Regions from separate parts of the Homo sapiens genome. Here region 2 is linked to region 1. The links come from fine-mapping of genetic effects on gene expression. Tissue or cell type: whole blood. Region 1 holds a variant in brackets; the other region holds the start of a gene. All regions are shown on one strand. Distances are from middle to middle.

Region 1 (5,209 bases):
AGCCTATCTGATCAGGGACAAATGTGTGTGAAGGAGGCCCATGTTTAGGATGGGCTTCTCCGCACACAAGAGAAAAATCCCAAATCTAAAAACTAAAACTCACCTTTAATAAGATCTGTGGGTCTCTTTTATCACGTGTCTCTTTCCCACCCATAAGTTGGAGTTAAGGTAGAACAGTAGGTGCTCTTGGCTTTAAGAGTGCTAATCACTTTATCTTCTTAAGCTCATTAGAACTTCACAGTAACAGTAACACAAGGTGGATATCCCACCCCCATTTTATAGATGAGGAGACTGAGATTTGGAAAAGTTAAATACTTTGTGCAAAATCATTGAATAATAGAGATGATATTCAAACTCATGTCTGTGTGGCTCTTGAGATTCTTTTTTTTTTTTTTTTTTTGAGACAGGGTCTTGCTCTCACCCAGGGTGGAGTGCAGCGGTGCAATCTGTACGCACTGCAACCTCTGCCTCCTGGCTTCAAGGGATTCTCCCGTTTCAGCCTCCTGAGTAGCTGGGACTACAGGCGTGTGCCACCATGCCCGGCTAATTTTGGTATTTTTAGTAGAGACAGGGTTTCACCATGTTGGCCAGGCTGGTCTTGAACTCCTGACCTTAAGTAATCCACCACAGCCTCCCAAAGTGCTGGGATTACAAGCGTGAGCCACCGCACGCGCCCTCACGTTGAGATTCTTTGTGAAATTGCCGCAAGTTAAAATCTGAACCATAGCAAAGACCCTCTCCAAGACAGAAACTCAGTTTTTCACATAAACCTTAGACTTAAGTGCTATCTCTTATCACAGAGAGGCTTCTGTTGTAATGTGGGCATTAGTCATTTTTGATAATTCAGAAAAATCATTGCTACTATGAGCGTTGAGATGGATGAAATTTTTGCTGTAATTACCTGAATTGCATGCAGCCATTGAAATCTTCCTTAACTTGAAATGAAAAAGAACTTTAGAAAAACATGTTTTATCTGTCTCACCAGTTAAATGCTCTTAGTAGAGCTCTTCTAGTATTTTGTAGATTCTTTTGGAATCGTGCCTGTTTCACAGAGGCAGAGACATGCAAACCTTAGAATGGGAGTTGAGCTGTTTGAAGTCTGCCTTCATAAAAATGTCTTATTGCAGCAGTATATTGCTTTGCATGTAGTAGGCCTCTGGTATTGAATGAATGAATTGAGATCTGGGAGAAAAAGCTAAAGGAAAGGAGTTCATTTTGTCGTAACTGACTTTTTTTTATTATCCTTCATTTTTAATTACAGCATTTGTGGTTGATACAATTGTATGGGTTAGCTATGGCTTTATAGATAAGTAGATTTTGAGATGAAAGAAGGTTATACTTTTTAAGTTCTTATTTTAAAATCTCCACTGTTAAGAGTCAAAATCAAGTTTAAAAAGAATGTTGCAGCTCAATTATTTAAATTTAAATTTTTTATTTGGAAGTACTTAGTTTCACTGGAAGTTGAAAAAAAAAATGTATAGGAAGGTTCTGTATACCCTTCACCCAGTCTCCTCCAGTGGTAACATTTTACATAGCAGTTATGCAGAGATCAAAAATCAAGAAGTTGCCCTTGTTTCAATCCTCAGAGTTTATTAGGTTTCACCAGTTTTACATGCCCTTATTTGTGTGTGTGTGTTTTTTGCAATTTTATTAAATGTGTAGATTTGTGTAAGCACCATCATGATCAAGATACAGAACTATTCTCTCACCACATGAAGTTCATTTTTTTAGCTTACCTTATTTTGTAATGGAATCCCCCCGTCTTAAATCTTCTGGGTCAAATAATTCTCCATCTTGTGTTTGCTCAGATCTAGAGATAAAACACATCTTCAGGGTTCTTAAATTTAGACAGCTTCGGTTGACATGGTATGTGAGGTTCATATGATAATCGTGAGAGATAAACCTGCACTTTCATGGGAAAAGCCATGGATAGCAGTAGCAGAAGATAATTGGCAACAGATCTTTTCTGGATGTTGGAGGAGAGGCTTTGGAATAACAGTCTCATTGTGATGTTTTCTGCTTTTGTTATAGGTTTGCCATGAGCAGACTAATGATAATAACTAACATTTGTTACTGTATTCATTGGTTTTCACCGCAGCCCCTACTGTTATCTCTGCTTTAAAGATAAGGACATGGAAACTTAAGAAGGTTGAGTAACTAGTCTGAAGATGCACAGTGAATAAGTGATGGAGTTAGGATTTAAATGTGGGTAGACTGACCCTACAACTTGTATTCTTCTCCACAGTGCTGCTATTTAGCAGACACAGAAACTTTCATGAGTAAGAGTAGCAAGTTCTGAGTTTTTGACTTTTGAGCTTGGGGAAGATGTGCCTAGAAGGAATGAGTAAACAACGAGAAATTATATGAGGTGCACATTTTGAGTGGGGTATTTGGTGTCTAGGTTATTCTCACTCTACTAATCTGTATGACCTCAGGCAGTGCATCCCCTCTGTAGACCTTAGTTGCCTTGATCTCAGATGTATCCACATGGATCTGATTTTCTGTAGGAATTTCTCAAAGATTGTGAAGGCAGTGTGTTACTCTTTTGATTCTTT[C/T]GGTTATTTGACTCTTGTTGGAGTAGGTTCCCAATGCCAAGAAATTCTGGGTCTTGTGGCGATTTAATCTGGCCAACTACCAAATTATAGGTATTTGAGGATAGTTTTTCTCAGCTCTGGGATTTTTTTTCTTAAACTGCCTCATATCTATTGTTAAGTCCTCATGTCTGTTGTAAAAATTCAAAGGTGCTTTGTGTTTTTTCTGTTTTTTTTTTTTTGTCCTTGAGAGGACCATTTCATAGGAATTTGAAATGTTTTCTGTGAATTTGAGGAGCACTTATGGCCAGAATATGCTTTTGCAAAATACTCTAGTTGAGAGTTAGAAGTGTTTGGAGAGTTGAGGAGGTAGTAGTTATTTTTCAACAGAATGGAGCTAAGAATTTCAACTAAGAATGGAACTAAGGAACTAGGAGATCTTAAAGTCTCTTTGAGTATTAAGCATCTCCTTTCCGTCTCCACACTTGAGGCAACAGTCTAATTGGGGCAAATGGAAGAGAAATGCTTCCTGTAAGAGCTAGTGAGCAGAATCTGTATTTAATTTTTGAGAGTCCTTGAAATTAACAGATGGATCTATGGTCAAAAAAAATTGCCAACCATATTTCTTATTACATTATACATTATATATTATATATATTATATATACATTTTACATTATATATAATGTATATATAATGTATTTCTTATGTTATAACGTATTTCTTATTACATTATGTTATATATAATGTATTTCTTATTACATATGTTACATATAATGTATTTATTACATTATATATTATATATAATGTAATATATGTTATGTAATAATTATATATGTCATATATAATTTAATTATATGTCATATTTAATTATATATGTCATAATTTATATATGTCATATATAATTTAATTATATGTCATATATAATTTAATTATATATGTCATAATTTATATATGTCATATATAATTTAATTATATATGACATATATAATGTAATAATTATGTGTCATACATATATGTGTCATATATAATGTAATAATTATATGTGCCATATATAATGTAATAATTATGTGTCATATATAATGTAATAATTACATCATATATAATGTAATAATTATATATGTCACATATAATGTAATAATTATATATGTCACATATAATGTAATAATTATATATGTCACATATAATGTAATAATTATATATGTCACATAATGTAATAATTATATATGTCACATATAATGTAATAATTATATATGTCACATATAATGTAATAATTATATATGTCACATATAATGTAATAATTATATATGTCACATATAATGTAATAATTATATATGTCACATATAATGTAATAATTATATATGTCACATATAATGTAATAATTATATATGTCACATATAATGTAATAATTATATATGTCACATAATGTAATAATTATATATGTCACATATAATGTAATAATTATATATGTCACATATAATGTAATAATTATATATGTCACATATAATGTAATAATTATATATGTCACATATAATGTAATAATTATATGTCACATATAATGTAATAATTATATGTCACATATAATGTAATAATTATATATGTCACATATAATGTAATAATTATATATGTCACATATAATGTAATTATATATGTCACATATAATGTAATTATATATGTCACATATAATGTAATTATATATGTCACATATAATGTAATTATATATGTCATATAATGTAATAATATATGTCATATATAATGTAATAATTATATATGTCATATATAATGTAATTATATATGTCATATATAATGTAATTATATATGTCATATATAATGTAATTATATATGTCATATGTAATAATTATATGTCATATGTAATAATTATATATGTCATATATAATGTAATAATTATATATGTCATATATAATGTAATCATATGTCATATACAATGTAATAATTATATATGTCATATACAATGTAATAATTATATATGTCATATACAATGTAATAATTATATATATGTCATATACAATGTAATTATATGTCATATACAATGTAATTATGTTATATATAATGTAATAATTATATATGTTATATATAATATAATAATTATATATGTTATATATAATGTAATAATTATATGTTATATATAATGTAATTATATATGTTATATATAATATAATAAGTAGTAATTACTTATTATTTATAATTAGGTGTATTCTGAGAGTCTTGATCTTTGTTTTTCACATTTTGACATTTCATGCTCAGATTTTGAGACTACTTTGTTGACATTATTCAGGCAAAGTTTCAGTTAAAATGGAGTAGAAGTTTTTGTACTTTAATACCGAAGGGGTAGTAAAAGCAAGGGTGGTCAGATCTTGAAACTGGGGACAAAGACTGCTAGTATCAGCTAATATTTTCACACCCCTGCCCAAATGTCCCTCTTTAATGCAAATTGGAGTTAGTAGGTTCTCAACAAGAGAGTGGAGTTCCCCCTTGGGAACTGTCCTTGTCATGGGCCAGGAGTGGGGAATAGCAGGGGAAGGTGGTGGCAGACTAACTAGTAAGATTAGTTCTGGACACAGGGCAGAAGGAAAGAACACCGTAGGCTTGTGCCTTCTCTTTGTTTCCTTGTGTTCTTTAGTGCCCGCAGTCAGTCTCCTTGTTTTTTTTTTCTGGCCA
Region 2 (4,000 bases), 66 kb before region 1:
GTGAAGTTATTGATGCTAAAGTAAAAGGGACTCTGGGTGACCAACAGTGTCACAGGCTGGAGGGTGGGCAAATGTTTGCTCTTCGGTCTGGGTTGGCCTGTTCTTTGCCCTTTGGGCTGGTGATAAGAGGGGGCAGGGAAGAAGTGGGAGAGAGACAGGGAGCACCAGGACCTGTTAGTTCTGGAGACTGGTATCCTGGGGACTGCATTCCCTGCTGTGGTGACCATTCCCCTCCTCCCCGCTGCTCTGGCTGGGGAAGGTCACTTTGTTTTGCCCCATGTTGTTAGGAGTCTCCTGTGATGCCTCCTTCCGGCCACCGCCCAGCCAGGGGAAATGTACCTGGCATTTTCGTCCGTCCACGCTCCTGAGGTCCTCCTCAAACTCCACTCCCACATCAAACTGCACAGTGTAGTTTCGGAAGGTGCTGAGCGTCCTCACCGTCATGTGGTTGCCCTGGTGTTCGATCTCCTTGTCCGGCTTCAGCAGCAGCGCGATCTTCCGCACAGCCAAGCTGATGTCTGTGGGGGCTGCCTGTTAGTAGGGGTGCTGCTAGCCAGCCAGGAGCTCCTCTGCCTGCAGCAGCCCCTCAGGGCTGTGAGTTTCCCTTCTTTGGGTCTGGGACTGTGGATTCACCCCCTCCTACCAATGCCTGGTTAGAAATGGATCCCAGGTCTGGTGCCAGCCGCCTGAGCCTTTCCACAGTGTCCAACCCCGGGCATTCCCTCTTCTCCATGGGACCAAGAAGCAGGAAGGAAGAGGGGAGAAAGGGAGTGACAGGGGTCTGGGAGGGCGAGGCCATTACTTAGGGCTTGCAGGTAGTCCTCCATGTTCTTCTGCGAGACAAAGCGGTAGTAGCCAGTGAGGTTGGGAGGCATTGTGTGGATGAAGGTTTCAGGAGAATGCAGGAGACAGGGTGAGGAAGGAGGGGGTGTTGTCTGGCAGGTGAGGCTGAGAGATTCCAGCCAGCTCCACACACAGAGACAGGATGTGTAATGGCCGGGTTACCAGGGCTTTTTATAAGGCTGGGGCCCTGTTGCAATAAGAGTCCCTACCAGACTTCTTCCCTCCCCGCATGGTGAGTTTGGGGGTGGTGTCTCCAGCCTGAAGGAGGGGCAGGGATTTGGCAAAGTTGCGCCTGACCTTGGCTTTTCCTGAGGAAGGAACCTGGAGCAGGATCCTTCCTGAGGAAGGAACCTGGAGCAGGATCTGGGGCTGTCAGTCATCCAAAACTCAGCCATCCAAAGGTCAGTGTTGGCCTCCACCTCATTTCTGGCAGGCTTGGGAACCGTCCCAGGGCCTGAGGGGCAGTCTTTCCTGGGAGACACCTGAGGCTGGTCTGGCTGTGTGAGGTGGAGATGAGTTCCAACAATATCCTGAGATCCTGGGACTGAGTGATGTTGGAAGATGTGAGGGGAGGGGGTGAGGATGGCCAGCTGCCACCATGAAGAGCACCCTGTAGGCCTGGCTCTCAGAGCTCCCTCAGGTAGTGTGCTCAACTGGGACCCCAAAGTGGCATTCCAGACTCTTGGTCCTAAAGAGCCATTAGGAGGGAGGTGGAGCCCGAGGGGTGCTGAGTTCAAAGTCCGGAACAGACAGCCTGAGAGGAGTTTGTTGGCTATTCTGGAGAATTTTATTCTTTTTGGCTTGGGACCCAGGGGGTTTTCTCTCCCTCTGAGTCATCGATGAGACCGTAACCCCCAGTCCCCAGCCCTAGGACAGCCCATGCTTTCCAGATGTATTTCTGTGAAGGTGGGGTGGAGGCGCCTAAATAATATTGTGCCCCGCCCCCAGCTGCCCAATTCTCTCTCGAACCTGCCATCGTCCCGGGCTTCAGAATCCACTGGGCTTGGTTCATCATGGTTTAAGGTGAAATTCGGGGCGAAGGAGGCAGGACAGGTAGGCAGGAGGAGGCGGCCGGTCCCGACAGGTGCGTGCGCGAGGGGTGCACGACGTCCTGCCCCTCCTTGGGTCCCAGAGCCTCGATACCGCCCTGCGGACCGCCCTGTGGCTTCCTCGCAGCCCTGGGCTACAAATGCCAGGATTTCTCAGGCTCAGACTGAGGGTTTTACTTCACCCTTCCCAGAGGGCACGCAGCACGGATCTGTGGATGGAAGGGGCTGTGGAAACAGGTTATGGCAGAGTTGGGGGGCGGGGTGACGCGGTGCCACCCCTCCTGGCCGCCCTCAGGTCCCGCTGACGTCTCTCTTCCCCACCCCCTGGCTTCTGGCTTCTTTCTCCCCACGTCCCTCTTCTTTCCCACCCCCTCCGTGGCTCTCCAGCTTCCTCCCCAGCCCCCGCAGTTCCTCGGCTCCCCCAAAATTGCAGCCAGGGGAAGGAGCCTTGAAACTCTCCAGCCCCGACGCCCCAGTCTCATTGGCTCCCTCCCCCGCTGCAGCACCTGGTCCCCCCCCCTCCCAGTCACCTGATTGGCCGGCGGCCCCATCAATCGTTGCCCGGCTGTGCTGACGTCATCCTGCAGTAGCGGGGTTGGGGTGGGAGTGAGAGAGTGAGGACGCTGGGCTGGGGGAAACGGGAAGCCGCTGCAAGTCCACCGCCTCAGCTACCCAGATTGGGATCTGCCCAGGCCCGCTTTATGGACTAGTGTGGGCGGCAGGCTCCTTTCCGTCCCTGCCCTGCTGTACCCCGCTCCTTGGAGACCCCCTGTATCCCTCCCGCAAGGTGGAATCCGCAGGCTGGAGGCTCCCAGGGGAGGCAAACGCCTGGCCCTGCCCTGCCCCACGCCGCACCATGACCCTCCTGCTGCTGCCCCTTCTGCTGGCCTCTCTGCTCGCGTCCTGCTCCTGTAACAAAGGTGAGTGAGGTGGGGGTGGGGGTACCGAAAGAGGGGCGTCGGGCAGCGCCGTGCGGGGTGGGGGTGGGAAGGAGGTGTCGAGGCTCCCTGGCACCTGACAGGTGTCTGGCCCTCTTCTGATCACCCTCCTTCCCATCCGTTCTCAGACCTGCTCCGTCTCCTCTCTTTCTCTTCCCCCAGCTACATCTTCCTTTCTGGTCCATCTCTACCCATGCGTTTCTCTTGCTGGTCATCTTGCTCCCATTTGGTCTCCATTCCCGTCCTGGGGTCTCTATTCTCCCCTTCCCCTAATTTCTACACGCTGGTGGCTACCTCGGGTCTGGGAAGGACTGCCCCCGAGCCGGTGATAGGCCTCTCCCCGCGGCTCTCCCTTTCACTGGCGCATGCTAAGGGTGTGTGGCAGATCCATCTGCTTCGCCTCCATCCCATCCTGGGGAGAAAGTATTTGCTGCAGTTCAGCAATTCGGAGCACGTATGTTTTTTGCGTGTGCCTCTGCATTCAGACCCTTTTGCCTGCATCAGCTGGGCTGTGGGTTACCAGAGCTGCCCTCTCTGGCAGACAGCGGATACATTCAGCTGGGCGGGGCTGTCGGACAGACGGAGAGGGAGGACGGGAGGGAGGGCTTGCGGGCAGAGGGCTCAGGTAGGTGGAAACGGATGGAGACTGGCAGGAAAGGGCAGAAGTGGGTGTGTGGGGGGCGCTAAATGAGTATGAGAGGGAAAGCTGAGAAGGAGAAGACCGGAGATGAGGCGTGGGAGGGGGTAAGGAGGGGATGGAAAAGGGTAAAGGTGGAGGCAGAAAAAAGAGGGAGGAATGAGGAAAATCAGGAAAAGAGTGAGTCAAGGAGGAGCCCGGGAGCCTAGGAGTGAAAGGGAGCAAACGCAGAGACCGCAGGGGGCCAGGAGGAGAGGAGACAGAGGCTCAGAGACCTGGGAAGACAAGCAGGGTGGGAGGGGGAGCTGTGCAGAGGGCGCCCAGCCCTGCCCTTCCACCGCTCTCTCTTCCTTGCCTGCATCTCTGACCTCAGCCTCGCCTCCTAGCCTCCTGCCACTTCCTGTACCGCCTCCTGTGCACCATCTTGTGGCTTTCTCCTCAGCATTCAGGAAGGGGTTATGGTGGTCATCAGTAAGAAAGCCTTCCCATGCCAAAGGCTTGCTGGTGTGTGGTTGGAGGAAAGAATGGAAATC

The links. PIP is the estimated chance that this variant, and not a neighbour inherited with it, causes the effect.
Region 2: CLSTN3 starts here. The variant in region 1 is fine-mapped to the expression of CLSTN3 in whole blood (TOPMed, PIP above 0.99).

Annotation. Positions count from the first base shown.
Region 1 is chr12:7,192,854-7,198,062 of GRCh38, forward strand. The region is part of intron 5 of PEX5 (peroxisomal biogenesis factor 5); the gene reads left to right. Among named protein-coding and RNA genes, the nearest start is that of PEX5, 5.8 kb to the left of the region's middle. The variant C/T (reference allele first, on the strand shown) is at 2,556.
Region 2 is chr12:7,127,901-7,131,900 of GRCh38, forward strand. It overlaps CLSTN3 (calsyntenin 3), which reads left to right and starts at 2,471. Exons shown (of 18, transcript NM_014718.4): 1 at 2,471-2,812. The coding sequence starts at 2,749. It overlaps RBP5 (retinol binding protein 5), which reads right to left and starts at 989. Exons shown (of 4, transcript NM_031491.4): 1 at 803-989; 2 at 340-518. The coding sequence starts at 875. RefSeq lists silencers at 2,228-2,327, 3,418-3,487 and an enhancer at 2,769-3,270.